Homo sapiens: one gene and its partners. The protein of the gene in region 1 interacts with the protein of each later gene in a biochemical or structural test. Each region holds a gene or a part of one and is shown in the gene's direction. Other genes may lie near its edges. The genes, in order: TEC, PTPRK, PTPN12, PTPRG, PTPRB, PTPRJ and GAB1.

Region 1 (4,515 bases):
TCATAGCAGTGTGTTGCTGTTTTCCCCTTCCTCTACCCACAGGAAACATTTTCGGATCAGGCTGGGCCGCTGAGCCGAGTTTGGACCTCAGATGCCTTCATATACAACTCTAAGTGTACACTACCAATTGATCATAGTTGTCATAGGGGGCAAAACCTATATCTTAGGTTGGGTGGTACGTAGATTACTGGCATAGAGCCCTTGTTCCTGTTTCTTTCTTTCTTTCTTTTCTTTTTTTTGGCGGGGGTGGAGACAGTCTCGCTCTGTCACCCAGACTGGAGTGCAGTGGCATGATCTCAGCTCCTGGGTTCAAGTGATTCTCCTGCGTCAGCCTCCCGAGTAGCTGGGATTACAGGTGCACGCCACCACACCCAGCTAATTTTTGTATTTTTAGTAGAGACAGGGTTTCACCATGTTGGCCAGGCTGGCCTCGAACTCCTGGCCTCAGGTGATCTGCCTGCCTTGGCCTCCCAAAGTGCTGAGATTACAGGTGTGAGCCACCGCCTGGCCTATTGTTCCTGTTTCTTGAATTCACTTTGTGTAGGATGACTCTTTCTGCCATCTTGACCTCTGAATGTTTTACCTTTCAGTGAAGTGCAGCTTCTATTAAGTCCAATATTATTTTAATCTGAAAGATGGGATTGGTGTCATTGATGGCCATGTGGCCTCAATGGAAGTTATCATTATTTCCTTCTGGAGGCCAGTTTATCACACAACTGCCTTACCAGCAGCAGCACCCTTACTTCCCTTTCCACTTGTGCCCTCCTTGGAATGTGAACCAAGTTCCTGTTTCTGGCTGGGCTGATGTACCCTGCCGTTTGTGGATGATCACGACTTTCCCAACGTCATTTCATCAGTTGAGTCATTCCTCAGGCTCCCTTAATGGGCTGTGAACTTCCAGCATGCTCTCCCAGTTGCTTTGTAACATCAACATTCTTTATGGTTACACACATGATGACAAGAGTCAGTTTCCACAAAAGTAGGAGGATAATTGTTCCTAAGCCATCTTATCTGTGCAGAAAAAGCAAAGCTCGATCTTCCCATGATGGCAGCTATGCATTGGCAATACAGAAAACAGGAGTGCTGGCGATTGTGACAATGGAGTGGGTGCAACAATTACTTTATCTTTGGAGGATGACAGATGGTTAAAAAGGCTTTTTCAGCAGGTACCACTAGGCACCATTGTGAACAAAAGCTTGGCTAGTAGGGATACTGCAGAGCTCATTCCTCCCACTGTGCTTCCACAAGCATCCTTCCCTTTTCTAAACGAAGTCTTTGAAGTCATTGGAACCTCCCTTTTCCAGGCAGTATAGTTTTTCTGTAATGTACTGGGTCTTCACAGAAGTTCTTTCCTAGGGAAAGCATAGTACCAAGCAAGTACTTAATATACTGAATGAATTTTCCAGACAATTTTGGACACTTTATAGTTAAGAAAAAATGATATTTGGGCCAAGAGTGGTGGCTCATGGCTGTAATCCTAGCACTTTGGAAGGCTGAGGCAGGTGGATCACTTGAAGTCAGGAGTTCAAGACCAGCCTGGCCAATATGGTGAAACCCCATCTTTACTAAAAATACAAAAATTAGGTGGGCCTGGTGGCACGTGCCTGTAATTCCAGCTACTCGGGAGGCTGAGGCAGGAGAATCTCTTGAACTCAGGTAGCAGAGGTTGCAGTTAGCTGAGATCGCACCACTGCACTCCAGCCTGGGCAACAGAGCAAGACTCCGTCTCAAAAAAAAAAAAAGAGACATTTGGTCACAATTACCCAAGTTGTACTCAACAATCTAAATTCTCTAAATTCTTGATTAGACTTTCACATCACTTGTCTATATATGGATTGAAATATAGAGCATTCAATTTAAGTTTTCTCAAGTGTATTGTTTCTTGTATTATTTAGAAATATTCTTCACTGAAAACATTCTTGAAAGGACAACATACATTATTATCATTATTTTCCATCTGTATATTTTTTCTTAGCATAGTGTTATGATTATCTTAGTTTTTATGGCTACAAAGAATGGCTTTTGGAGGAGGGAGGGAAGTAAGTATTCATTATGTTATCTCATCAGTTTTATGTTTCTAAAGGAGGAACACTTTTGTTTGGATTTCTACAATATATACTTTTGCCTTTTGTAACTATATGTCATTTGTTTTTCAAGGTTAAAGCTTTTAACCTTGAAATGCTTACAATAGAGTATCAAAGCGACAGACTTTAACTTGTCATGTACTATATGAGATACTTACAAGGTGAAACTCCCTGTCAAGTATCCTACTCCTTTTATTTTTAATTTTGGTGACATTATAATGTGATTTAGTAGGAAAAACCTTTGATTTTTCTTCTCTTATCCTTCATGGAATTCCAATGATATCTTTTGTTACTATTTCCTTAGAAACTCTTAATGTCCTCACATACTCCTCAATATTATGTTTCAACCACGACTTGTGGGATTTCCATATGACTGCCCCAAAAATGAAACTGGCTTTTTTTCTTACAAGAGTGATTTAAAGTTTCATTTTTCTGCCAATATGATTTAAGCATGCAACAAAGTTAGTTTTTACTATTAGGGTTATTTTTGATTTGTAGAAGGCAGTTGATTTCTTCATTTTCCTGCTTGGGTGATAAAAATGCTTGATCCTTCAACCATGCAGGGAAACAGAAATACAATTTAACTGGGTTTGAATGCTGTCAGACATGTAAATTTAGGTATACATGCTTTTGAATTTTTTTAAGGATTGTCAGTGTCTTTGTCACATACTTAAACCAGTTATAGAAGCATTGCATGAAATAATTCTTGTTCATAAGTTCTGGAGTCCTAGCCAGAAGACATTTTTTAGGCTCAGAGCTGTTGACACACCATCTTGCTTCCCCCAGGCAAAAGTTTGATCTTTGGGTGCCACCGAGGTTCTCAGACACCTGGTGTGCTCCTTGGACTCTCCTTGCCATCAGTAAAAAAAAATTGTCATTTTGTAGAGTTTTATATATTCCTTGTTAGAAGATGTAAACAATACTGAAGCTTACAAAGAAGAAATTAAAAATAACCCTAAAACCATTCCAGAGAGAATCTTTGTGAATCCCCTTCCAGTCATCTCTATTACCAGCTGACTTTTAATAAATCTTTAGCAATGTTCTAGAAAATAATTAAGGAGCATTATGTTACAACTGTTTATGTAACTCCAAATTCTACAATCTTTATTTATACACAGGTAGTTACTTTATGACGTTGTAATTAGTCCATGCATAATTTTCTTTGGGTAATTCTGTCATGTTAGCATACGGTGGTATTTTGAGCCACTCCCCAGTTGTTGGACACTTAGATTTTTTTTTTCTTTTTTTTTGTTTTAGAGACAGAGTCTTGCTCTGTTGCTTAGGCTGGAGCACAGTGGTGCCATCACCATAGATTACTGCAGCCTCGAACTCCTGGGCTTAAATAGAAGGTTTGAGCTTCAGCCTCTGGCTTCAGCCTCCTGAGTAGCTAGGATTGCAGATGCATATGACTGCATCCAGCTCATTGAAACGAAAATTAAGCAGCGATGAGGCCTTGCTATGTTGGCCAGGTTGGTCTTGAACTCCTGGCCTCAAGTGATTCTCCCACCTCGGCCTCCCAAAGTTCTAGGATTACAGGTGTGAGCCACCACACCTGACTGATTTCTAGCTTTTATTCATCAGTTTTAGAAGGTCATAAAATAACTCACTAGCAATGTGAAGTTTCCATTTTTTCTCTTTTTTGACCTTTTAGAATTACAGTGTCTCTGTTATGTGAGGACAAGAAGAGCCAGAATGCTTGAGGCCATGTTATGTACCCAGTTATAGGTCAGATAAAACTAGAAGAACCTGACAGGTCATTTGCAGAGACTGTGTTCTTGTTGGTAATGTGTAGAGCCTCATTTCATCTTATTGGATGTCTATAGGAAAACTTTCCAAGGATCAGTAACAAAACATGGAAGAGTTGTTATGTAACTGTGCAATGACATTTGACCTCAGTACCTGGTCTAGAGTTTATGAAACTTTGTGTGACCCGGGAAGGCATCTTATGTCCTCAGGAAACTCCAGCCTTCCTATCCATTGTGCCATTTCTCTACTGCTTGAGTAATCATGGCCCAGTAAGGTGTGCAAGGCAACCAGCAATGTTAGAGAATTTTGCATTAATGTAGTTTCTTGATAAAGAACTACAGCAGAGTGAGCTCCTGTTCAGATTTTTCTTTTGACATCTTTCTTTTTTTTTTTTTTTTGAGACAAAGTCTCACTTTGTCACCCTGGCTGGAGTACAGTGGCATGATCTCGACTCACTGCAATCTTCACCTCCTGGGTTTAGGAGATTCTCATGCCTCAGCCTCCTGAATAACTGGGACTATAGGCATGTGCCACCACGCCCGGCTATTTTTTGTATTTTTAGTAGAGGTGAGCTTTTGCCACGTTGGCCAGGCTGGTCTCGAACTCCTGACCTCAAGTGATCTGCCAGCTTCAGCCTCCCAAAGTGCTGGGATTACAGGCATGAGCCACTGCGCCCAGCCCCTTT
Region 2 (4,515 bases), on another chromosome or scaffold:
AAAGGTTTTATTGTTATCATTGTCAGTTGGGTCTGTACCCATAATTGTGTTTAATGGCTTTATTTTGGCCATTAAAATGGCTTTTGAAAACATTTCTTTCCATCTTTGCACAGAGGGGGTACAATGAAATCCGTGAAGTTAAACAGTTCCATTTCACGGGCTGGCCTGACCATGGAGTGCCCTACCATGCTACAGGGCTGCTTTCCTTTATCCGGCGAGTCAAGTTATCAAACCCTCCCAGTGCTGGCCCCATCGTTGTACATTGCAGGTAAGTGGTGGTCCAAATGGTATTGACTGTATGCAATCAGCTTTTTTTAGAGTATCAAGACAAGGCTTTTGAGCACAAAAACTAATGTGTGCTTACGAAGTTCCAGCTTGCTTGTATTATAGATAAAGTAAAACAGCAATAAAATAAAAGTTGGCTGTAAGTAGTCTATAAAACAGGAACTTAAGAAATACATACATTCATCCTAATGCGTGTAGTGTTATCCACAATTTAAAGTATAGAAACTCTGCCTTTTAATGGCAACATCTGTGTTTTTTGTTTTTATCACTTTTGCAAATCCCATATTGTATAGAATGCTAGGTTGAAATAGACATTTCTTGCCAATCTAGAAAATTCCCAATAGAATTCCAGCTTTAAAACTAAATTTCAGACATACAGAGTTACTAAATGGCCTAAATTGCAAGGATTTGTGCTGCAAAACAGCTATTTAAAAATTTTTTTTAAAGAATTCACATTAGAGGACCTTGAAAACTGCATCAGTGAGATTCAGCAAATATATGCCAAAAAACACGAGCATTATATCCAGACTTTCTTCTGATTAGAAACTTCTCTTAAAACAAGCATTTAGAGATACTAAAAGCAAATTACATGGCCTCATTTTGAGGTGTGACCAGAAAAATAAGTACTGAATCTGAAAAGCGTTTCCTAAATGATGCTGCACACCATTCTCATACGCTCTTCCCTCCAAGCTACATAATAGGTTGTACCTAAGCATTTTTTGCTTTCTGAAAATCCAACCTATTCAGGATTTAAATAACCATGTATAAAAGAGGGGAAAAAAAGCAGAGAATGAAGTAAAGGTAAAACGTCCCATAGGATCAGATACTATGTACCCTGAAAACAAAAAAAACTTCCTTTCAATCCTCCTCATGAAATCTGATGTACTCTTAAATTACATTCCTGTCTCCAACTCTGGGAACAGTGATTGAGAAGATGGTAGGGGACAAAGATAAATAGAGATAGCCACAATATCTTTTGCTTAAATTTCTAAAAGAACAGTGAGTTTAAGAGAAGTGACCAAATCTGAATAACAAGGAAATAATGTTACTAGCCTATCTAAGCACTTAGAAAATGAGATAAATAGGTTTTCAACTTAAGAATTTCTTGATTTATCAGAGAGGTTTACTTTCTTATGAATTGCTTGCTTCAGAAATGCTCCAAGATTCTCAGATACTCTCTTGAAACAGAAGTGTCATTTTCCACCTACACTGAAGCATCTCTGGACTACAAAGTGAATTCCCCACTCCCCGCAAAAAATCCTTATTTTGTTTTCCCCATTGACTTCTATATATAAAATTGGAGAAACATTCCCCAGCTGCAAAATAATCACAGTATATTACAATTAAAGGACACAAAATATGGTGAGATAGAGGAATACATTTTAGTGTTCTGTACCACTGTAGGATGAGTCTGGTAAATGATAATGTTTAGTTTGAGAGAGCTAGAAGGAAGATACTGAATGTTCACAACATAAATGATACATGTTTGAGAGGACGCATATGCCAATCACCCTTTTCTGATCACTCTACATTATGTGTATTAAAATATCACTATGTACCCAAGAATATATACATTATTATTTGCCAATTAAAGACTAAAATATAATTTTTTAAAAGTATTTTTAAAAATTAACTTTAGAATTAAATACAGTAAGATAGCGGCTAGCCTTTTGATTTGCTGGGAATCATATTCTACACCTAATAATTCATTTTCATTTCTCTTCAGATCATGATTCAAATAGTCTTTACACTGTTACTCTCCTCCCCTTTGATAACCGTCATTCTCTTGCCCACCCCCACCATTTGCATTTCCTGTGAAGCGTGGCTCCTCAGATTTCCCGTTTAAAGTTTTGGGAATTAATTTTCTTTTGCCTTGGTATTTACAAGAGGTGAAGACAGTGAGTGAGCCAACATTCTCACATTGTTGCCAGAGGACACACAACTAGATGAATCTAAAAATATTCAATCTTGAGTTAAATTTTGAAGCGTGAATCTGCCACTTGATCAATTCTATGAACTTGAAATTATGTGTATTAAATTTACATAAAATGAAAATTGTGAGAGAGGTGTGGAACTTAAACAGTGTTATTTTCAATTTGAAAATAATTTAGAACTCTTGTTCCAATCTTTAGTTTATACCAAAGCAGATACTCTGCATGAAGCTATTTGTACATTAATAAGCTTTTACACAGCAGGGACAAGTGCTGTGCCTTGCAGTTTGTTAAATCAATTTGATTCTACCTATCTGACAGTGGAAAAAGTCCTTATTTAAGGTTATGAAGACTAACATGCTTCTTACAATTCATTAAATTTAATTGTTTTTCAGTGCTGGTGCTGGACGAACTGGCTGCTACATTGTGATTGACATCATGCTAGACATGGCTGAAAGAGAGGGTGTTGTTGATATTTACAATTGTGTCAAAGCCTTAAGATCTCGGCGTATTAATATGGTCCAGACAGAGGTATGTAGATTTACCTGTAGTGGACTTTTTTTTATTTTTTATTTTTTTTGCAAACAAAGAGTAGATGTCTCTCATATATACTCTACTCAACCGAAAGAGATGTTTTTCATGTGTAATCAATATTAGCTGAGTCATATAGAAAAATATTGGTGTTTTAATTCATATTTCCATATAGAGAAAATTTTCTGTATTTCCTAACTTTGATGACAGAAAAGTGATACTAAAACTAGTACAAAATTTTCTTTTTCATTCTTTTGGTAGGAACAGTACATTTTTATTCATGATGCCATTTTAGAAGCCTGCTTATGTGGAGAAACTGCCATACCTGTCTGTGAATTTAAAGCTGCATATTTTGATATGATTAGAATAGACTCCCAGACTAACTCTTCACATCTCAAGGATGAATTTCAGGTATTAACTATTTCTAAAACCTCTTTTGTGACTTACTACAATTTGTTCTGGGCGCTAGGAATCCTTTCAAGGAAGGTCTTTCAAGTCAAATTTATAACCTTTGATCCTGTTTTAAATACAATACGTATCTCTTTCATTATACATATTATATAGTCACTTTTCTATTGATGAATTTATATCTACTATATCCAAAATGACAAATAAGTTCAGACTTAGGGAAGAGCAAAGGGGAAAGGTATCATAAAAGTCAAAAATTAGGCCAGGCGCAGTGGCTCATGCCTGCAATCCCAGCACTTTGGGAGGCCGAGGCGGGTGGATCACGAGGTCAGGAGATCGAGACCATCCTGGCTAACACGGTGAAACCCCGTCTCTACTAAAAAGACAAAAAAAATTAGCCAGGCATGGTGGCGGGTGCCTGTAGTCCCAGCTACTCGGGAGGCTGAGGCAGGAGAATGGCGTGAACCTGGCAGGCGGAGCTTGCAGTGAGCCGAGATTGCACCACTGCACTCCAGCATGGGCAACAGAGCGAGACTCCGTCTCAGAAAAAAAAAAGAAATAATAACAAGTCAAAATGAGTGGTGATTTGTGTGTATTTAGTGTGTATTTATAGCCTTTTTTTCATGCAGTCATACAGATTTTGACCTGGGTCACTCACAATGTGATGAGATCAAGCACATTAATTATAACTGAGTCTGGGTTCAGTGGCAGCTCACACCTATAATCCTAGCACTTTGGGATGCCAAGGCAGGCAGATCTTGAGGTCAGCAGTTCAAGACCAGCCTGGCCAACATGGCAAAACCTCATCTCTACAAAAAATATAAAAAATAGCCGGGTGTGGTGGTGCATGCCTGTAGTCCCAGCTACTCAGGAGGTTGAGATGGGAGGATTGCTTGACCCTGGAAGTTTGCTTAACCCTGGAAGGCTGTGGTGAGCCAAGATATTGCCACTGCACTCCAACCTGGGCAACAGAGTAAGACCCTGTCTCAAAAATAATAATAGTAATAATAATAATAAATGAAGTTTGTAGTACATGTTATTTCAAAATAGCCCTAAATGTTTTCACTGCCCTTAAAACACCCCTGAAGGTGGGTGAAAATAAAATCAAGGGCAGAGACCAAATTCTTTGATTGTTGATCCAGTGCTCTTTCCAACATGCCATAGCTTATCTTCAAATATGGCAAGCCCAGATGTTACTACAAATGATACCGTTTCCCAGTGTGATGAAGGGTCATTATCATAATGGACTGCCCGATTGCATTTTCTTTGGTTAAGGCAATGCATTTTGCAGGTAGCAGTGTTGTTTAGCGTACCTTTTCCTTTTAAGAAGAGGAGCCCTGAACAATGTGTGTCTTGTTTC
Region 3 (4,515 bases), on another chromosome or scaffold:
CACCTAACATGATGATTTCAAGTTTCATCCATGTTATAGTATTGATCCGTAGTACTTTTGGCCTTTTTATGGCTGAATAATATTCTATTGTATAGATACCACATTTTGTTTATCCATTCATCGTGTTGATGGGTATTTGAATTGTTTCCACTTTTTGGCTAATGTGAATAATGCAGCTATGAACATTTGTGTACAAGTTTCTGTGTGGACACATTTTCAGGTCTCTTGGGTATATATCTAAGTGTGGAATTGCTCAGTCACGTGGTAACACTATGTTTAACATTTTGCGGAACTGCCAGACTGTTATCCAAAGCTGCTGCACATATTACATTCCAATCAGGAATATATGAGGGTTCCAGTTCCTCTACATCTTCACCGATACTTGTTGCTGTCTTTTTGATTATAGGCATCCTACTGGGTGTGAAGTGGTATCTTCTTGTGGTTAGCTTGTAAGATTTTGTGTGTCTTAATTTGTCTTTCAAAGCTAGAGTGATAGGAAATATTTTCCAGTCCTTGCATTTGAGCTAATCTTAGTGCTTACCCAGTGCCACTGGTTTAGTTATGGTTTTCTTATCCATCCTTTGATGAGTATTCACCTAAACATATTTACATCAACTAACTTCAGAAGTGGAAGTGAACTTTTAAGTAACTCTCCAGACATGGTTCACTGAGACAGTAAACTAAAAATTTACTTTAAGCATTCTCAAGAATGTTTTACTTTATTTACTTTCAAAATATATTAACTTTTTTCCATCAATATTTGATATTTAACTTGGAAAAAGGATTTTTAAAGGATGAAACTGAAAGTAAGACATTAACATTTAGGTGGCTGTAGGTTTTTTGTTCATATGTTAAATACTTCTGTGTTTCTGTAGCACTGAGTTCATTAGATTCATAAATATTTACATTTCTGTCTTCCCCAGACTGAACGCCTCCCAGGCTAGAGACTGGGACTTAATTATCCCTGTATCCCCATTGCTTAATATAGTGCTTGGCATTTAATAGGCACTAATGTCCATTGCATGTGCAGACATTGTAGACAAACTTAATGCTGTAAGACAGATTTATTCTTCAGGTGAATTCTTCAGTGGTCCAAGGGTTTGTCTTCTAGACGATCATGAGAACTGCTTCTTCCCCTCCTACACAGATGTGCTCACATAACTCGTTGTATTTTCAGTATCCACTGAAAAAGAAAATACAAGATAAGAGCTACATTGAATTCAAATATTTTAAATAAATATGATTTTATTAGCTGCAGTTTCTTAAGGTAACTTCTGTATTTGTGCATCCCACACCCAATGGATCATACTTTGTTGACATTGTCTTAGAGTATTAATAAAATGTCTTTTAAACTTTTGGCTTTGGACTTAATAAAATCAAGATATCATGTCATCGGTATCTCTTCAAAAATAGTGAATTTGTGGGTATTTAGAGAGTGATTACAAGTGATATCTGTTGTTCTCTACTTGCCTCTAGTTTCTTTCCTCATCCAGTCCATTCAACACATCATACTCACTTTCAAGTGGCAGCATCTGTAGGCTAATGGAAACCATACTGGTTGTACAATCAGGAGATGTGGGCTGCACTGGAAGCATGGTTTAATTTTTATTATTAAAAATATAAGTTAAAAAAACTCATTGCTCCCTTTGATGACCATTACAATTATTGGAAATTTTAAATGTGTATTTTGAAAGTCAATTCAAAACATATGATCCAAGTGCTGCTCCTTTTTCAAACTGTAATTATGTCTGTCTCTCTTTCCAGAGAGATTTGATTCCCTGATTTTTCCCTTCTCAGCTCCCTCCAATTTTAAATATATATATATAGTTTTTTTTAATAATTAAAAAAAAATACTTCACCTGGAAGTTTTCATCCAATTTTGTAACTTTGGTCCTAGTTGAGAATCACAGGCCTATAGGATAAAGTCTGTACTTCTTAGCCTGGCATTCCAGAACCTTCTTAACATAATGTCACAGTACCTTTCCAGTGTTAAACTTCTATACTCTGGTATGTATCCTCTCTTCTTTTTGAAGGAAGCTATTCCTGGTCCTTGAGCATACCTACTAAATGAATGAAATCTTGCTTATCTGTGGTTGTACTGTTGAACATACTTTTTCCCTCAGAAAGCTTCCCTTTTATTTTATTTTATTTTATTTTTTTGAGACAAAGTCTTGCTTTGTTGCCAGGCTGGAGTGCAGTGGCACCATCTCAGCTCACTGCAACCTCCGCCTCCTGGGTTCAAGCAATTCTGCTGCCTCGGTCTCCTGAGTAGCTGGGATTACGGGCGCCCGTGACCACACACAGCTACTTTTTTTATTTTTAGTAGAGATGGGGTTTCACCATGTTGGCCAGGATGGTCTCCCCTTTTATTTTATAAACCAGTACTTGGAAGATGAGAAAGCTAAAAATTTAAAATGACTTCACCATGTTCACCAAAAACTCAGAAGCAAAAATGTGATTAATTCTCACCTTCTAGAATAAATATTTTAGCACAGTTAATCTTAAAGCACTTTTTCTCCTTTGTAAAGTTTGATCTTTAATATCACAAGAAAAAAAGCCTTTCATTAGATTTGAGTTGAAAACTTGATAAGGTAAATCAGGTGATATGCAATTTCTAAACCACTAGTCTTTTCCAAATATGAGTTGAACTCCTCTTCCAGCATTTTATATTTCCTGTAGTATTTAAGTTTCTTTAGATTCATGCAGTCAAACCTTGACAATTATCTCCTTCCTTCTGAAATCACACAAAAATCTTGTTTGCATTTGTACAGTATTGTAGGGTCTGTAGCTGGCCTATGGCAGATATAAGAAGCAAACAGTAGTTGCTCCCTAAAAGTTTTTTTTGGAGAAAGTGGAGTGTGGACTGTATTAGTCCATTTTCACACTGCTATGAAGAACTGCCCGAGACTGGGTAATTTATAAAGGAAAGAGGTTTAATTGACTCACAGTTCAGCATGGCTGGGGAGGCCTCAGGAAACTTACGATTGTGGTGGAAGGTGAAGGGGAAGCAAGGCACCTTCTTCACAAGGTGGCAGGAAGGAGAATGAACATGGGAGGAACTACCAAACATTTGTAAAACCATCAGATCTTGTGAGAACTCACTATCAGGAGAATAGCATGGGGGATTATAATTACATAGGGATTATAATTCAAGATGAGATTTGGTGGGGACACAAAGCCTAGTCATATCGTGGACCATGATAATCTCAGAGGCTTTGGGAAGTGTGCTAATATCTACATTTCCTGTAATAACTTTTATATCTAATCGGCATTTAAAAAGCTATTTTAACAACATTTGAGTGACTGTCCTGATAGGCTCTGAAGGAATGCAAAGATTTGTCTCTGTCATCCATCCATGGTCTCTGTCATCCATCCATGGTCTCTATCATTTATCCATTCATACAGAAGGTATTTATGGAGATACCTGAGTGCCCACTATGCCCTAGGTACTGTGTTTTTGAATTGACAGTTGAAAACATGGCAGTACTCTGTTCAGGAAGTTTACTAACTGAACAGACCTGTGAGAAGCAGCGGGACTTTTCCTGGGGGCAGTGGGTGGGCTTCAGGGGAATCTTTGAACCCTTTTAAATTATATATAATATTTTTTGTGTGTAAGCCCATTTTAGGGGGAAGAAAGTTCATAGCTCTTAGTTTCTCAAGGAGTTTGGGTCCCTTAGACTAGTGGAAAGATAAGGAGTTTAGGAGCTATACAGTCATTAATTTCTATCCTGGCCCTGCTGTGATTCTGAGCAGATTATCTAGAGAAGTTGGGGCTCTAATACCTACCTGGAAAGAACAAGATAATATATGTAAAGTTTCTAACATAGTATATAGAAGGTAGTCAAAGGAATTTGAGATGACATACTGCTCCAGTGGAAGTATATTCGGAATATAAGCCAGAGAGACAGGAGAGCCTAAATCTGTCTGAATAGATCATGGACAGTTTCCACAAAGATGCTACATTTGAGCTGGTTTTTGAAGGAAGAGTTTGTCAGGTGAACTAGGTGAGTAAAAGGCAACAACACTTTCAAAGACTTGGAGATAAACAGAGATAGAACTGTGGGTTTTAGATGGGAAGAACAGGGTCAGTGTGTATAAAATAAGAAAATCTTATGTACCCAAATAATAGGATTTCCAAAGGAATATCAGCTTAAATGCTATTATGAAATTGGCCTGTGTTCCTGAGTGTTTTGATGAGGAGTGTTTTGATGTTCCATTATTATGGCATAGTTGTTTGATCTTACAGTAGGACCTTTTAAAAATTGAGTCCTTGTCACATGGTAAATGTTCTTAAATCTGGTAATTTTACTTTATCTCAGGTATATAAAGTAGTACTCTCTCTGTTTACACAGTTCTTAGATGACTAGATTAGTGTTTCTCATTGGCATCTATCAGATATGTTTAAAGTGCCCTGTAGAAAGAAATTACATTTAAAAAGCCTTCAGGACTAAGGCAGCTTATTTATAATGGTGGGTCTCTTGCTTAGTTTGGATTCCTCAGCGAATTGAGTTTTCC
Region 4 (3,500 bases), on another chromosome or scaffold:
AAATTGCTTTGTCGTGGCTGGTTGTTAATTTGCTTGCAGTTAAAACTGTCACCACGAAGTGGCAGTATAATGTTGTTAAACTGCTCAGTGTAAAGCGGTTATAGTAGAGAAAAAATTACATTATTCACTTTTTATAATTCAGTACCTTATGAACACAAGCTGTGCAACAGTGTTAGGTGGTTATATTATATAATTTTGTGAAGGTAAAAATTCTTCATATTTTTAGTTATGATTTGTGGGATCAGACGATGCAGGACCACAAAGGAGTTAAATCTGTTCCAACCCTTTCATTTGACATATACTCAAATTCAGAGGTTGTCATTTGCGTAAAGTTATATGGATCTGAAAATTTCTGGAACCAGAATTAATATCTTAGTTTCCCCATTCCTGGTTGGTATAATGAATAATTAAAATACTAATCACAGCAGTGGTGATAATAATAATAGCCTAAAATTCACTATGCTCTTCCTGGGTTTCAGGCACAGATTATTTTATTTACTTCTCCAGGCAGCCCACAAGGTCAGTGTTACTGTTGTTCCCGTTTTACAGATGAGGAAACCGAGGCTCAGTGAGTTAAAGTAATGTGTCCAGCATCACCCAGCAGGCAAGCTAAAATTAGACTAATAGCTCAGAGCAGCACTTCTTGTTTTCCTAAGATACCTTATGTGAGTAAAACCCCCAGACTTGAGCCCCAGTTTAGTATGGTGGTAAGAACAAGCCGAGTCTTAGACCCAGGCAGCCCTGCATTTGTGCCTTCCAGGTCATGTACCTTGTGTAAGCTCTTTAACATCTCTGTGTCTGAGTTTCCTCACCTGCAAAATGGGGTGATGATCATGCCTGCCTCCAGAGTAGCATGGAAAGCCCTGGCACACGGTTGGCATTTGTTAATTGGAATTCTTGTTATTGTTGTTGATGTTGTTGTCATCTGTATGGGCTCAGATTTTCCCACGGATCAACTTAGAAACTGCAAGGTACAGTGACTCTGCAGTGCCCAACATGGAGATGCAGAGATGTAAACCAGTGCCCAGAGCATGCAGTGCAGAGCATGGCTCCTGCCTCTGACCCTGTCATTGCAGACCTGGGCAGGCTGCTTTCCCTCCTTGTCCACCCACTTCCTCACTGGGAGACAGTGGGGTTGGACTGGATCACCCAGTATCTTTCCAGACCTAGAGCTGAGTATCTACTCAAGTGTCAGTGATATACATAAAATCAAAGGTCTTCTGCCTCTCATCACCCCAAGAACAGATGACCATCTGATTTTTCCAGTTCATGACTTCTTTGTTGTGTAAGTCAGCTTTAACACTACTTAGTTTTTTTGGCACCTAGCCTCATCTTGGGTAATATCAGTGAAAAGCTGAGTTTGATCGACTAGTTATGCATTTTAACATGTTCACAATTATAAAACCATTAAAAATAAAAGTTGATCACCCATGGACCACCTAATGTCAACTTTATGCCATACATTGGAAAACTCCATAGCATAGATGAGTAAAATCCTCAGAGGGTGACAACCAGGGCCTCATTCCCAATCTCAATTACTGATGCTTCTCTGCTTTTTCTTCTTCTGCCTCTTTTCCACCCTTGCCGGGTGACCCTTTCCAGCCCACAGCGTCTCCTGCCTCTTCAGCCGACATGGCCCCCATCAGCTCGGGGTCTTCTACCTGGACGTCCTCTGGCATCCCATTCTCATTTGTTTCCATGGCAACTGGGATGGGCCCCTCCTCCAGTGGCAGCCAGGCCACAGTGGCCTCGGTGGTCACCAGCACGCTGCTCGCCGGCCTGGGGTTCGGCGGTGGTGGCATCTCCTCTTTCCCCAGCACTGTGTGGCCCACGCGCCTCCCGACGGCCGCCTCAGCCAGCAAGCAGGCGGCTAGGCCAGTCCTAGCCACCACAGAGGCCTTGGCTTCTCCAGGGCCCGATGGTGATTCGTCACCAACCAAGGACGGCGAGGGCACCGAGGAAGGAGAGAAGGATGAGAAAAGCGAGAGTGAGGATGGGGAGCGGGAGCACGAGGAGGATGGAGAGAAGGACTCCGAAAAGAAGGAGAAGAGTGGGGTGACCCACGCTGCCGAGGAGCGGAATCAGACGGAGCCCAGCCCCACACCCTCGTCTCCTAACAGGACTGCCGAGGGAGGGCATCAGACTATACCTGGGCATGAGCAGGATCACACTGCCGTCCCCACAGACCAGACGGGCGGAAGGAGGGATGCCGGCCCAGGCCTGGACCCCGACATGGTCACCTCCACCCAAGTGCCCCCCACCGCCACAGAGGAGCAGTATGCAGGGAGTGATCCCAAGAGGCCCGAAATGCCATCTAAAAAGCCTATGTCCCGCGGGGACCGATTTTCTGAAGACAGCAGATTTATCACTGTTAATCCAGGTAAGTGGTGCAGGTCTTCTTCGAGGGTTCCTGCTCCTGTGAATAGTCGTACCCTTTTTCAAAAAATTGGGAGCAGAAGGTGAAGCTTCAGAAGGTACTTAATATTCTTAGAATCATATATGTCTGTCATAGAAAAGGTGCACACATGTGAAATGTGTATGTGTGTGTCCCTGTTTTACTCCAAAAGCCTACTCTCTTACGCTGGAGTAAGTCTTTCTTTGATATTTGTTTTCTTGCCTCGGAATAACTCCAGGGACTTCAACCAGGCAATGATATACATGAATAAAAAAAGCCATCGATCTTAAGAAGTTTATTTATTAAGATTTCATTCCATATTCATTATATAATGTATCTACAAATGGCTAGTTTGGTGCCAGGGACTGGGCAGGGTGCTGTCCCAGGGGATCCTAGTCCCTGCCTAAAAAGTTTAAAGGGGAAGGCAGACAGATGACAAGACAGTAGCTAGCTGGAGCGCATGCCCAGAAGTTAGGTAGCAGGAACGTTAGAAAGCCAGCAAGCTAGATGGTGGTTAGTCGGCAAGCTAGATGGTTAACTGGCAAGCTGGAAAACTAACTAACTGAAGTTTTCGATTGTGAAATGGTAATAGAGGAAATAAACAGGATGCTGTCCAAGAGAATTATGGAGAGGATAGGGACCTACCTTAATTAAGAAAGGCCACTCTGGAGAAGTGGCTTGTTCATGGAAACCTACAGAATGAAAGGCTTCAGCCTGGGGAGAGCTGGTATTGGCCCATGGTCCTTGCCCAAGAAATACGGCCCTCTCTCCCAGAGCTCCCATTGCTGTGGGAATGAGCCAGTGTATAGACAGTGAGGCCAGGGCATGAGATCCTCATCTCCTGGTGGCAATTTTGTTGCTCTATCATATGCTCAAATCTTAATGAACCATCCTGATAGTTTCTGCAAGGGAGCCATAAGCATGAGGAGTTGTTATTGTTGTGAGGGCTTTTCTTAATAAGAAATTCTTCATTTTGCCAGACTACAAGATGTTTAGCAACAATTTTTTTTGCGTCTAAGCTGTTGTGGAGTTATAAGAGTGCAAAAAAAAAGCAACTGGTAAATATTTATTTGCTTTTGCACTTGTAAACATTAAAATTCATCTA
Region 5 (4,515 bases), on another chromosome or scaffold:
AGAGACCCAGAGAGGGTTGTTATGGGATGGTGGCTGCAATGAGATAGGCCACACTGGGAGGAGCTGGAACCTCGTATATACATTTTCTGGGCCTTTTTCATAAGCTAAATGACAACGATTTATTCATCATTTATGAAGATTTCATTTTACATGCCTATCAGGGTCCATGTGGCAAGCATCTAGAAGTCACCACCTGGTTTGTTTTGTTTTAATTTATACCATATCTCTAGTCCATATGCCCTTAAAGTTAAATGGCCTGAAATGTAGGCAAGATCTGACTACAATATGTACGACTCACCCACATGCCCAACATAGCATATACTCTCACCTGTGGGCCAAAATGCCTGTGTTTCTGTTTTGTTCTCAGTAACAATTTTTCTTCTGTTTAAGTCCCAGCCTCTGTGAGTCATCTCAGGGGGTCCAATCGGAACACGACAGACAGCCTTTGGTTCAACTGGAGTCCAGCCTCTGGGGACTTTGACTTTTATGAGCTGATTCTCTATAATCCCAATGGCACAAAGAAGGAAAACTGGAAAGACAAGGACCTGACGGAGTGGCGGTTTCAAGGCCTTGTTCCTGGAAGGAAGTACGTGCTGTGGGTGGTAACTCACAGTGGAGATCTCAGCAATAAAGTCACAGCGGAGAGCAGAACAGGTGAGAAGCCCAGGTGCCAATGGCCAAGGGATGGTGGGAAGTAGCTTCCAGAGACACATTTTGATTCTGATTTTAATGACAAGAGATAAAGCCAATAATGATATACCCTGAGCTAGCCCCTGAATTTGGGAAGGGACTGTGGGACAACAGATAAAGGACAAGGCTTTGGTCCAAAAGAAATATGTCCTTAGCTTAGCTCTATGAATCTGGGCAAGTCATTGAGCATCTCTAGGCCTCAGTTTTCTTATCTGCAAAGTGGGAATAATCATATACATCATCACTGTGTGGCTATCACCAGTGCTTCCTAACTGTTTTTATGTCATGGGCACACACAGAGGTCTGTGTGCCACCCTGGAGTTAATCAACAAGGCTATCTGCAACTGAACATAATTGTCTGTGGACGTCAGCCCTGTACCCCAAAATCTGATGGAATTAATATCTTCACACACTTGTAACCCATTCAGGGCACACTCATGCTCCACAGCACCATGGTAAGGAAGATCTGGCTATGAATATTTAAGAAAAGGTATATGAGGCTGGGCACCGTGGCTCATGCCTATAATCCCAGTACTTTGGGAGGCCGAGGTGGGTGGATCACTTGAGGTCTGGAGTTCGAGACCAGCCTGGTCAACGAGAGGAAACCCTGTCTCTACTAAAAATACAACAATTAGCCAGGTGTAGTGGTGGGCACCTGTAATCCCAGCTACTTGGGAGGCTGAGGTGCCTGTAATCCCAGCTACCTGGGAAGCGGAGGTTGCAGTGAGCCAAGATCACTCCACTGCACTTCAGCCTGGGCAGCAAGAGCAAAACTCTGTCTCAAAAAAAAAAAAGTGAAAAAAAAAAAAAAAAAGTACATAAAATGCTCGAAGACAGTGCCTTACACATAATAAACACTATTAATGAAAGCTCCTGCTACTATATTATTATCATATTATCTCTTCCTACAAAGTACATTAAAAGTGTGTCTGATGTTGCTCAGCTATCTTATTTGTATATGTTATGGCATAGCTGTGATTATGTGATTTTTCACTTTCTCCTACATTCAGCTCCAAGTCCTCCCAGTCTTATGTCATTTGCTGACATTGCAAACACATCCTTGGCCATCACGTGGAAAGGGCCCCCAGACTGGACAGACTACAACGACTTTGAGCTGCAGTGGTTGCCCAGAGATGCACTTACTGTCTTCAACCCCTACAACAACAGAAAATCAGAAGGACGCATTGTGTATGGTCTTCGTCCAGGGAGATCCTATCAATTCAACGTCAAGACTGTCAGTGGTGATTCCTGGAAAACTTACAGCAAACCAATTTTTGGATCTGTGAGGACAAGTATGACATGTTTTGCTACTCTTATTTCTCAAATGGAGTAGAGGAAGTATATGTTCAACATCTTACTCAAATAGGGCTTGGATTAAATCCATATTTTTACATGGGATTGGTCTGGATTTGAATTCAGGCAGAAGTCTCTGTAGATTTGTTCGTTCATTCAACATTAACAACAAGGGACAATAAATCTCTCTCTGCCCTCATGGGGCTTACAATTAGGTAGGACGTACTATTTGTAAATAGACATTATATTTTGGGTGTGATGAGGGAAGTAAATGGTACTATGGAGACACTTGTTAGGTAATCTGACCCAATACAAGAGAACTTCTTGGAAAAGGAAACATCCAAATAGAAACCTAAAGCAAGAGATTTACCAGGTAGAGGTAGGGGAAGAAGTGGAGAATATTCCAGGTAGAGAGAATAAAATATTCCAAGATGAGAGAGGAGGGAGAGTACAAGATCTACCAATAGGGGAACAGAAAGAAGTTTATTTGGCCATAGCATAAAAGGTGAGGATTAAGGGAATCAGATAATAAAATATTTTGTATTCCATGGTAACTACTTTGAACTTTATTTTGAACCAACTGGAGCCACTCAATTTCAGCAGAGATATCATAATCATTATTTACACTTTAGAAAGTTACTCTGGGTACAGTGTAGAGAATAGATTGAAAGAGGCAAAACTAGAAGCAGAGGGATCATAGTTAGCATATACTGCTGTATGTCCCTGAGATAAAAATACTTCGACGACGAAGCATATACCAGTTTCTTCCCAAAGGCATTTTGGGATAGATACTATCACCCTCAAAGAAAGACAGGTATTCAGTGTAGGGACTTTAATCCAAATATTTGTGTTTCAATAATACCCAGTATAAGTAGCTTCTGGGATCAGATCAGATAGTTATTGGTTGTTGATAAAATACATAGTTGAAAGTTAGAAATTTAAGCAAGTAGTTGTTTTATTTTTTTAATAAGCATTAATACTATAACAAGTATAACTTTTATGCCACATTGTATCCAAAGAGCAGTTATTTGTGTGTCAAGAGAAATATGTGAAAAAGAACTAAGAGTTTTAGTTTATGGCGAGCTCAGGATGAGTTTTCCGTGGCTGACTGTGGGCTGTGTTCATGAAATCTGCTAAGCAGAACACCCTGCACTGGTTACCAAACCCAGGGCAGAACTCTAAACACTTCTGACCATTGCATCTGGTATTAGAGTAGCCAGGGAAACACAATGCAAACACTGGATGGAACAAAGCTTTACTTACATAGAGAGGAGACAGAGTAAGATCAGCCTCAACAGTATGCATCAGTCCCCCACAGCCAGCTGCAGTAGTTGCCCAGAGATGCACTTGCTATCTTCAACCCTGACAACAGAAAACAGAAGGGCGCATTGTCTGTGGTCTCTTCCAGCAGCCAATGGAGGGCAGTTGGCTAAGTGCACCCCTCTCGGGCCACAGTAGAAGGACCCTGTCCTGTCTCCTCAGAGGACAACTATAGCATTGGTGTTCGCCATCTACCATGTGACACACATGCTTAAGCAGAACAAAAGAGCATACATTGAGCTTGCAACAGGGAATGATACTCCCACACAAGGCAATGAGCCCAGCACAGGGTGTGTAGGCTCTCCATCTCTTGGTAAGAAAGTATCTTAAGCTCAAGGGCCATTTCTTACACAGCCAAATGGGGGTTGATAGACTATGCACATGAGACTGCCTTTCCCAACAGCCTCGCAGGTGCTCAGTTTAAGAGCTCATACAACTCTGTTAGAGGCTAGGCTTATAAGTCACAACTGGACTGTTGTATTCAGTCCCGGGTGCTAGAATTTAAGGGAGGCATTTACCAAAAGGGGGAGTGCCCAAGAGGACAAAAACTGCCATGAAAGAGAGACTCAGTGCTGTTTCATGAGGAATGATTATGGTGGAACTTGTTTTTGTTTTGTTATGTTTTGTTTTGTTTTCTTCGAGGCTTGTATTTATTAGGATCGGGTGAGGCTATGGGTAACAGAAAATCCAAAATAGCAGAAGTTTAAATAGAATAGAAGTTTATAATTTTCATGTAAAATCATTCCAGTACTCAATTTCTCACAAATATGCTTCAACCATAATGAATGATTTGCAGTTCTCAATTTTCTACCATCCCACTCCGGCACCTCCTCCTTTGGTACCTGGGTTTCTGGTTTTTCTCTACGTAGAATGCCTCTTTCGTGATACCTTGGCAGAGTGTCACCTCTGCCTTACAGCTTTTACTAACTCCTGCTGATCACTAATAGCCAGCAGCTAAAAGTTGTGTGTCACACCACATAGCACCTTCTCTCACCATTTCTTCTGGTATGTTTTCCTTTCTACCTTGTGTTATGGCTATTTTGGACTCATTTCCATTTGTAGAGGTTAGAGCTAACGTCTTATTTACCTCTGTACTGTTCATAATCCCCAGAAGAGCACCTGGCACATAGTAGGTACTTGTTTCTCTCAACACGTGAAAGAAGTGTTCACTCCACTCTCTTTTTGTTTGCATGGCTTCAGAGGAGGACATAA
Region 6 (4,515 bases), on another chromosome or scaffold:
ATGTATATCTCCAAAAGAATTGAAAACAGGCCCCTGGACAGTTATTTGTACATCAGTGTTCATAGTAGTAGCATTGTTCACAGTAGCCAAAGGTGGACCCAAGATCCCATCAACAAATGAATGGATAGATAAAATGTGGTTCATCCATACAACAAAATACTATTCAGCCATAAGAAAGAAAGAAATTCTGATTTATGGTACAACATGGATGGATCTTGAGGACATTATGCTAAGTGAAGCCAGACACAGAAGGACAAATACTGGATGATTCCACTTACATGAGTACCTAGATTAGGCAACTTAATATTCTACAGAAATTAGAATAGAGGTTACCAGGGGCTGTTCAGAGGAGGGAGTGGGCATTATTGTTTAATGGCTACAGTTTATGCTGGGGATAATGACAGTGTTTTGGGTACAGGTAGTGGTGATAGTTACACAACATTGTGAATATTGATGATACCGAATTGTACACTGACAAATGGTTAAGATGATAAATATTATGGTATGTATGTTTTACCACAATAAAAATGAAAAGGAACAAATATCTCTATTTTTCTAACCCAACTGAATTCCTTTTCTCTCTGTGTCCACAGTCATACATTTTGCTTGTATACTGTAATTATTATACAAATACTTTTATTTTGTATTTGAATTTCTTTTTACTCAGTCTATACCACAACTTTCCCCTATAGTTAGCATGGCCTTCATATTTTTAGTGGCTAAAGAGTATTTCATCATGCAGCCAGATCACAGTGCCCACAGCCCTCCCCATGTTATTGAATATTTAGGTTGTTTCTAGGTTTTTATGTTTATAGACAAAGGCTGCCTTTCATGGGCTTTTGTCTGTGGAATCCCTTTGACATCAGGAATCTGCTGGTAGGAAACAAAGGCTCCTCCCAGTGGCTTCTCTGTAAGGAGAATCCACTTAAAATTAAAAAAAAAATTAATTTTGGAGTAGATAGTACGTAAACATGGCACAATTTTTTTTGTTTTTTGGACAAGGTGTTTGCAGTGAAAGCATTTCCCTTTTTTGTCCCCTACCTGCCCATTTCCTCTCCCTGGAGGTGACGTTTGTTGCCAGGTAAAGAGAGACAGGGTTGAAAGCCGCGGTAGAAAATAGGCCCAGCCTCCGCGGTTACTTCCGGGCCTCTATGTAGGCATCCCTGGTGCAGGTGGCTGAGTGGGCAGCGGGAGATGATCGGAGGATGGGCTCCTGTGGGAGATTCCATTTCTGACTCTGCTCTGAAGGTGCAGGGTGTGCCTGTTTTCTTCCCTTCCTCATCCGTCCTCAAATGCTGCAACTTAGTAAAGGTCAGCTCTCCATTTCAGTTTTCCTCTTTGGTATGTAAGGCTGTGTCACGGGAAGATGTTTCCTTCTGAGTGACTGATTTAAAAAACACAACAAAACAAAAAAACCTCTTTATTGAGATATAATATACATACCGAAAAGGGATGTATCCTCAGCACATAGCTTCATGAACTTTTACAAACTGAACACATCTTGTTACCAGCACCCATATAAAAAAACTGAATGTGATTTCCACTTCAGATGACCCCTTGAAGGGCTTTTTTTTTTTTTTTTTTTTTGAGATGGAGTTTCGCTCTTGTTGCCCAGGCTGGAGTGCGATGGCGCGATCTTGGCTCACTGCAACCTCTGCCTTCCGGGTTCAAGTGATTCTCCTGCCTCAGCCTCCCAAGTAGCTGGGACTACAGGCATGCACCACCACGCCCGGCTAATTTTGTACTTTTTTTGATAGAGACGGGGTTTCTCCATGCTGGTCAGGCTGGTCTCAAACTCCCGACTTCAGGTGATCCGCCTGCCTTGGCTGCCCAAAGTGCTGGGATTACAGGCGTGATCCACCGCGCCTGGCCTTTTTTTTTTTTTTTTTTTTTTTGAGACAGAGCCTCATTCTGTCGCCCAGGCTGGAGTGCAGTGGTGTGATATCGGCTCACTGCAACCTCTGCCTTCTGGGTTCAAGCGACTCTTGTGCCCCAGCCTCCCGAGTAGCTGGGATTACAGGCGTGTACCACCACACCCAACTAATTTTTGTATTTTTAGTAGAGATGGGTTTTCACCATGTTGGCCAGGCTAGTCTCGAACCTCTGACCTCAAGTGATCCATCTCGGCTTCCCAAAATGTTGGGATTACAGGCATGAGCCATTGCACCCAGCCTAAGGGCTCATTTTTAAGACAACAACAAAAAACTGGAGAACTGGTAAGATAAACTGGGAAGTTCATGTGCGTCACAGAAGAGCTGAAATTCTTGAGAGCACTGAGTGTGTGCATTTCTCAGCTCGATTTTGGAGTGTGCCTTTTGTGAACTCATTAGAAAGCGTAATGGCAAAAGAGCAGGTCCTCTCGACAGCACTTGGAGAGGAAGCTGGGCGTCATGATAGTAACAGTTTTCCCTTCTCCTTCCTTTCTTCTGAGCAGTTCCCAGTGCAGTGTTTGACATCCACGTGGTCTACGTCACCACCACGGAGATGTGGCTGGACTGGAAGAGCCCTGACGGTGCTTCCGAGTATGTCTACCATTTAGTCATAGAGTCCAAGCATGGCTCTAACCACACAAGCACGTATGACAAAGCGATTACTCTCCAGGGCCTGATTCCGGGCACCTTATATAACATCACCATCTCTCCAGAAGTGGACCACGTCTGGGGGGACCCCAACTCCACTGCACAGTACACACGTAAGTCTCTTAGGATGCCCTTCTAAGGAACAGCCTCTCTAACTGTCTCTTGGAGGAGGCACTGGTTAAATGATGGCCAGTGTGCTTCTGGGATCCAGGTTGACTCTGAAACTGCTGAAGTTGAAAACATTGGTCTCAGCAATGGTTCTGCTGTCACCATGGGGCACTGTTCTTCAAGCTATGTGAACTTAGAATTGTCATTAGAAGGAAGAAATGATTCCTTGGGAATGGTGACTGAAATGGTTCTAGTCATTCCTTGAGAATACAGAGTAGAGAAGGGTCACCTTGTCATGTTGGTATTGGAAGATACTGCCCAGATGAGGAGCTTCGCCTGCAACAGTTAGGGAGGTGTTTTGCGAATATTTGAATTAAATACATGGTAAAGATGTTAGTTTGTAATATGTTTTTAGTATATTTTTCTCCATCTATTAGATTTAAAAAACAGATTAGAAATTAAATGTTAAAAATATATTTGAAATAAACTTGAAGTATTAAAAGAAGCCTAAATTAAACTTCTTTTGAGACTTAATCTGTATAATTATTTTCTTGATGTGTTTTTGGGAAGTTTTCCATCTTTTGAGCCAGCAAATACTAGTTTTATTCATTCTTTCTAAAACGAGCCAGGCTATTTTTGGATATAGTAAATAGTCCTGGAATTCTACTTAATCTGTGCTTTTACATGAATTGCCTTTTTTTTAAAATCAAGGGCCCAGCAATGTGTCCAACATTGATGTAAGTACCAACACCACAGCAGCAACTTTAAGTTGGCAGAACTTTGATGACGCCTCTCCCACGTACTCCTACTGCCTTCTTATTGAGAAGGCTGGAAATTCCAGCAACGCAACACAAGTAGTCACGGACATTGGAATTACTGACGCTACAGTCACTGAATTAATACCTGGCTCATCATACACAGTGGAGATCTTTGCACAAGTAGGGGATGGGATCAAGTCACTGGAACCTGGCCGGAAGTCATTCTGTACAGGTGAGTGTAGCCCCAACTGCCTCTTGGACTCCTCCCTGAGTGGTGCTGACCTTGCAGGTCAGTCCTCCCAAGTCTGTAGTTTGTCTGGTTTTGTGTGATGTGCAGTGATGGACATTGAGCTTTCCGAGGCATCCTGTTAGCTTATCGGTGCTGTCTCGATGCCCTCATCATTTCTGCATTCAATAAATATTTATTGAGCATATACCATATGCCAGTCAAGTCCTTGCCTTCTTGGAACTTTTCGAAGGAGGAAGTGGGATGTTTACCTAGAGTGCTCAGGAAAGGCCTCAATGACAAGGTGACTTTTGAGCAAAGATCTGAATGAAGGGAAGGAGCCAGCCATGTGGATATCAGGGCATGAGAACATTACAGGCAGAGGCCTGTGCAGAGGGGCCTGTGCAGCATCACCACTGTATCTGGAGGCTGGAGGAAGAGCAGGAGGCAAGGGTGGGAGGAGTGGACCCGCAGGAACAGGAGGATATAGGTGGGAGGTGAGGCCTGAGTGGGGCTGAGCCAGGATGTGGATGATATCTGGCATTGGTTTGTCTTTTGTGCTGGAGAAGATGAAAAGTTTATTGAAATGATGCCCAGCCTTTGCATCCTTCTTGATCCTCACCTATCTCACAACTGAAAATGTGTGATAAAGAGAAGAGCCCTCTGTGTAATTGAGGATGCTTTCAGGGCAGCCCAGGAAAGGCTTTGCAGACAGTGGTGGGCACTTCTGCTCACAGTGCTGACTGTGGCACCTTTATCACTCAGCACCCGTGCACTACTCATTTTCTGCCCTTCTCGCTCCTACCTCTTCCCTTTTTAGCCCAGGCCATTCAGATATGTTCAG
Region 7 (4,515 bases), about 95 Mb from region 1:
AGAGTTTAGCCTCCTATAAACCCTATTATTGGAGGGGGAAAAGTGACAGTTGATGGAAATTGAGAGAAAAAAGACAGGAAACTGTATTTAAAAGATGAACTATACAAGCATAGCAATATGGTACTATTTATTAATAGTATAGGGGCAAATGACACTCTATACAGTGCAACAGCCTCTGAGAGTCTCCTGAAGTGCAGTATAGAAATGGATGCTTACAATACTTAGTCTGAATCATTGGGGAATGGATTATGTTTGGTGAAGTATGTAGTAAAGCATTTTAGAAAGATTTGCGTGCAAGACAATAAAGTTTTAAAAAGTCATTTCTGTATTTAAAGATGAAGCTTCACTATCTGGAGAAATCACTTACTGAATGATATGATTTCTTGAGGGCCCTGCATAAATAACATCATATTTTATATTCTTTTGCTTTACTTCTGCATTACTTTTTAAAGCTTACTGCTTGAGAGGGAAGTATCCATAGAGGGATAATTTTACTAAGAGATGATATTTATTTATTTTGCAGTAAGTAGATGCATATTCAATGAATGGATTTTTATAGTCCAGAAAACAGTGCTAAAATCATGTGAATCCAACACTTTATGACTTTTCAATATTATCTAAAACATCTATAGGACTCTACCCTGCCTTCCCTGGACACAAATTATATACTTATTCCTTTGAGCTGCGTGAAGAATGAGAAGTTAATTTAAAATGTTGATGATTAAAGACCTATATAATGTTTTTAGGCCTTTGTGATCTCTGGTCATCCTCTTGTTAAAGGATTGCCTAAATTTTTCTGTAGAGGAATGCTTGTTCATGTAGCAATACCTCTGCAGACATTTTGCCTGGGTTGCTGTAGTCTCAAGTATTTTCATGTATGTTAAATATTTTTTTCCACAATTAGTCAATTCTTTGAAGGTAGGAATAATGAATTATATACTTGTTTTTCTTCCCACAAGTAGCAAAGGGAATGTTTTATTCCACTGGGGGTTTTCGAGTCCTTCCACTTCCCAGAGCATCCCCACCACCCCGCTGCCCTTTTTTTTTTTTTTTTTTTTTTTTGAGGAGGAGTCTTCTTCTGTCCAGGCTGGAGCGCAGTGATCTCAGCTCACTGCAACTGCCAACTCCGGGTTCAAGCGATTCTCCTGCCTCAGCCTCCTAAGTAGCTGGGATTACAGGAACCTGCCACCACACCCAGCTAATTTTTGTATTTTTTAGTAGAGACGGGGTTTCACCATGTTGGCCAGGCTGGTCTCGAACTCCTGACCTCAGGTGATCTGCCCACCTCGGCCTCCCAATGTGCTGGGATTACAGGCATGAGCCACTGCACCCAGGCCCAGAGTGTCCTCTTGAGGTAGTCTTACCTAGAATGTTGAATCTGGAGCAGAGAATGTTTCTTAGTAAATGACTGAGACTTGCTAAAATAGGCCTCTTTTCTGTCTAGCTGCCTCCCTGAGGAAGAATTTCAAAGAGGAGTAAGGTGTAAGTTTGTTTCCAGGCACACATGTTGGGGTTAAAGGCTGATAAGGAAGGCTGTTTGTCATTTGGTTCTGCTTTTATTATTTGGTGACCATAGATTTAGGGAGGGTGATAGTAAAATAATTTTTTAGGCTTCTCTAGGTATAGTATTAAACTCAAAATTTACCAGAACTTGTGGAGGGGGTATGTGGTGAGTGTATTACAGATTGCCCATGTATGTTTGTTGGGAAGAGGAGGGGAAATATTAGAAAGAGTTAAATCCCATACTCAAGAATACAGGTCTTACTCGTATAGTCTTTGAACAACAGGCTGTGTGGCTAAAAGAGAGACACAATCAATTGCTTCCCAGTCAAGAAGCCAGAAAAGCTTCAAAACCTTTCCCCCTCCCTACTCCTTGCCACCGCACCTAAAAAAAAGAGAAATCTTTTAAGTGTTTAAAATCTGTAGGAGTCTTATGAAGAAGCAGCTTTATGTGTATTCTTTATGGCATAATATTAATGCATGAAAATCTGTTGCTTTTTTAAAAATTGTGGCAAAATATACATAACATAAAATTTATCATTTTAGCTATTTTTAATATACAATTCACTAGCATTAAGTATTAATACATTCACAGCACCATTGCAACCATGGCCACCATCATCTCCAGAACTTGATCTTCTTCAACTCAAACTCTAGGCCCATTAAATACTGTAATAACTCTCCATTTCCCACCCCTCCCCCTCCGCAGGGCCTGACAAATACCATTCTGCTTTCTGTCTGTATGAATTTGACTACTTGAACTACCTCATATAAGTGGAATCATACAATATTTGTCTTTTTATGACTGGCTTATTTCACTTAGCATAATGTCCAGCTTCATTCTTTTGCGTATGGATTTCTAGTTTTCCTAACACCATTTGTTGAAACCATGACTTTTTCATATTTAGTAAAAACTGAATCCTCCTTGATGTATTGCCTCAATATTATATAGTAGGAGATTTAATCGAACATACTGAATATATATATACATTATTAAGTTAATTGAGTTATGAGTAAACGTTGCTTTTCAGAGTGGCAGATTATCCTGTGGTAAAAACACACACACAAACACACACATATTGTGACTTTCTCTAAACAATGCATTTGTAAAATCAGTTTGATAAATGTGCATCTTCTTGAAAACATTATCTCAAGTTAATACTGAATGGATATTTTTGTTTTGTTTCTAGGCATGGAAGAGGAGATGGTTCGTGTTACGCAGTGGCCGTTTAACTGGAGATCCAGATGTTTTGGAATATTACAAAAATGATCATGCCAAGAAGCCTATTCGTATTATTGATTTAAATTTATGTCAACAAGTAGATGCTGGATTGACATTTAACAAAAAAGAGTTTGAAAACAGCTACATTTTTGATATCAACACTATTGACCGGATTTTCTACTTGGTAGCAGACAGCGAGGAGGAGATGAATAAGTGGGTTCGTTGTATTTGTGACATCTGTGGGTTTAATCCAACAGAAGAAGGTAAGTTCAAGATATTACTATTCAACTTGAATTCTTCTTTTCTGCTACATTTCCAGAAATGTCATACAATTCTTTGTTATTTTAGTTACACAATATAATGTTTTATTTTTATAATAGGAACTTGACATTTGGAAAAAGCACTGAATCCTTTAATTAGTTTGGGGAGAAGCTGTTTACCAGTTTTAGAGCGACAGACTTAGACATATTGGGGCAGTTTTTAAATATCCTGAAGTAAAAGGTGACAAGAAGACATTTTAAGAACATTTATTGAATTCCAATATAAATATTCAGTTTAACCATATAACACTGTTGATATTTTACTATTTTTCACCTATTAAAAAATAGCACATTTGGCCGGGCGCGGTGGCTCATGCCTGCAATCCCAGCACTCTGGGAGGCCGAGGCGGGTGGATCACGAGGTCAGGAGATCAAGACCATCCTGGCTAACACAGTGAAACCCTGTCTCTACTAAAAATACAAAAAAAAATTAGCCGGGCTTGGTGGCAGGCACCTGTGGTCCCAGCTACTCCAGAGGCTGAGGCAGGAGAATGGTGTGAACCCGAGAGGTGGAGCTTACAGTGAGCCGAGATCGCGCCACTGCACTCCAGCCTTGGCGACAGAGCGAGACTCCGTCTCAAAAAAAAAGCACTTTTATGTAGCTCAACCCAATTCTTTAGGTGCTATTTAAAAATATATTTTAAAACTATATTAGATTATGGCCGGGCACAGTGGCTCACACCTATAATCCCTGCACTTTGGGAGACTGAGGCAGATGGGTCACTTGAGGTAAGGAGTTCTTCAAGACCAGCCTGGCCAACATGGTGAAATTCCATCTCTACTAAAAATACAAAAATTATCCAGGCATGGTGGCACACGCCTGTAGTTCCAGCTACCCAGGAGGCTGAGGCAGGAGAATCGCTTGAACCCAGGAGGCGGAGGCTACAGTGAGCCACAATTGCACCATTCCACTCCAGCCTGGGCGACAGAGCAAGATGCCGTCTCAAAAAACTATATTAGATTATCCCATTTATGCCTAGTGTTCCATTATTGGAACGCTAAGCATGTGGGAGTTATTTATATCCCACTGCTCAAGGTCATCGCCAAGGTCTGATTGCAAACATTCAAAAAATTGCAACCTCAAGCATAAATAGGTTATGAAGTTAGGAAATAGCCAAGGTAATTATCATTACCTATGAAATGCAAGTGAGAATCAGTCACAAAACACAATGAACAAGTACCAAACAAATGAATTACTTAGCACAGGTCCTACAAGGAACATGGAAGAAGAAAGAGGGGCTCAAGGTTTGGGTAAGAGGTAGTGAAGGAAAGCTTCTGAAAGGAAAATAAATTGCAAAATGTAGGCTTTTGAAAGAAACAGTATTTCTGTGTAAATGAAAGGAGGGACGCAGAACCCTCCAGGCTTAGGGACTTAGGAAAGAACAGACCCAGAGAAGGAATCGAATTTTACTTGACTGGGGCAGTAAGGCTCTGAGTGAAAAAGGCCCAGGGACAGTTGCTTACAAATCTTGA

The links.
Region 2: of the proteins of TEC (region 1) and PTPRK, one has a biochemical effect on the other in vitro, tested with the Homo sapiens proteins (one large-scale study listed by IntAct).
Region 3: of the proteins of TEC (region 1) and PTPN12, one has a biochemical effect on the other in vitro, tested with the Homo sapiens proteins (one large-scale study listed by IntAct).
Region 4: of the proteins of TEC (region 1) and PTPRG, one has a biochemical effect on the other in vitro, tested with the Homo sapiens proteins (one large-scale study listed by IntAct).
Region 5: of the proteins of TEC (region 1) and PTPRB, one has a biochemical effect on the other in vitro, tested with the Homo sapiens proteins (one large-scale study listed by IntAct).
Region 6: of the proteins of TEC (region 1) and PTPRJ, one has a biochemical effect on the other in vitro, tested with the Homo sapiens proteins (one large-scale study listed by IntAct).
Region 7: the proteins of TEC (region 1) and GAB1 form a complex in vitro, tested with the Homo sapiens proteins (one large-scale study listed by BioGRID and IntAct).

What each region holds. Positions count from the first base shown.
Region 1 is NC_000004.12:48,259,429-48,263,943, reverse strand, and holds part of TEC (tyrosine-protein kinase Tec), read left to right. Parts: intron 1-4,515.
Region 2 is NC_000006.12:127,981,474-127,985,988, reverse strand, and holds part of PTPRK (receptor-type tyrosine-protein phosphatase kappa isoform b precursor), read left to right. Parts: intron 1-113; coding exon 114-268; intron 269-2,611; coding exon 2,612-2,747; intron 2,748-3,008; coding exon 3,009-3,158; intron 3,159-4,515. UniProt on the Homo sapiens protein: Regulation of processes involving cell contact and adhesion such as growth control, tumor invasion, and metastasis. Negative regulator of EGFR signaling pathway. Forms complexes with beta-catenin and gamma-catenin/plakoglobin.
Region 3 is NC_000007.14:77,543,791-77,548,305, forward strand, and holds part of PTPN12 (tyrosine-protein phosphatase non-receptor type 12), read left to right. Parts: intron 1-4,515. UniProt on the Homo sapiens protein: Dephosphorylates a range of proteins, and thereby regulates cellular signaling cascades. Dephosphorylates cellular tyrosine kinases, such as ERBB2 and PTK2B/PYK2, and thereby regulates signaling via ERBB2 and PTK2B/PYK2.
Region 4 is NC_000003.12:62,201,571-62,205,070, forward strand, and holds part of PTPRG (receptor-type tyrosine-protein phosphatase gamma isoform 1 precursor), read left to right. Parts: intron 1-1,602; coding exon 1,603-2,380; intron 2,381-3,500.
Region 5 is NC_000012.12:70,556,810-70,561,324, reverse strand, and holds part of PTPRB (receptor-type tyrosine-protein phosphatase beta), read left to right. Parts: intron 1-328; exon of another isoform or gene 329-390; coding exon 391-654; exon of another isoform or gene 655-720; intron 721-1,700; coding exon 1,701-1,982; intron 1,983-3,246; exon of another isoform or gene 3,247-3,345; intron 3,346-4,515. UniProt on the Homo sapiens protein: Plays an important role in blood vessel remodeling and angiogenesis. Not necessary for the initial formation of blood vessels, but is essential for their maintenance and remodeling. Can induce dephosphorylation of TEK/TIE2, CDH5/VE-cadherin and KDR/VEGFR-2.
Region 6 is NC_000011.10:48,133,605-48,138,119, forward strand, and holds part of PTPRJ (receptor-type tyrosine-protein phosphatase eta isoform 1 precursor), read left to right. Parts: intron 1-2,434; coding exon 2,435-2,692; intron 2,693-3,398; coding exon 3,399-3,677; intron 3,678-4,515. UniProt on the Homo sapiens protein: Tyrosine phosphatase which dephosphorylates or contributes to the dephosphorylation of CTNND1, FLT3, PDGFRB, MET, KDR, LYN, SRC, MAPK1, MAPK3, EGFR, TJP1, OCLN, PIK3R1 and PIK3R2. Plays a role in cell adhesion, migration, proliferation and differentiation.
Region 7 is NC_000004.12:143,412,787-143,417,301, forward strand, and holds part of GAB1 (GRB2-associated-binding protein 1), read left to right. Parts: intron 1-2,690; coding exon 2,691-2,985; intron 2,986-4,515. UniProt on the Homo sapiens protein: Adapter protein that plays a role in intracellular signaling cascades triggered by activated receptor-type kinases. Plays a role in FGFR1 signaling. Probably involved in signaling by the epidermal growth factor receptor (EGFR) and the insulin receptor (INSR).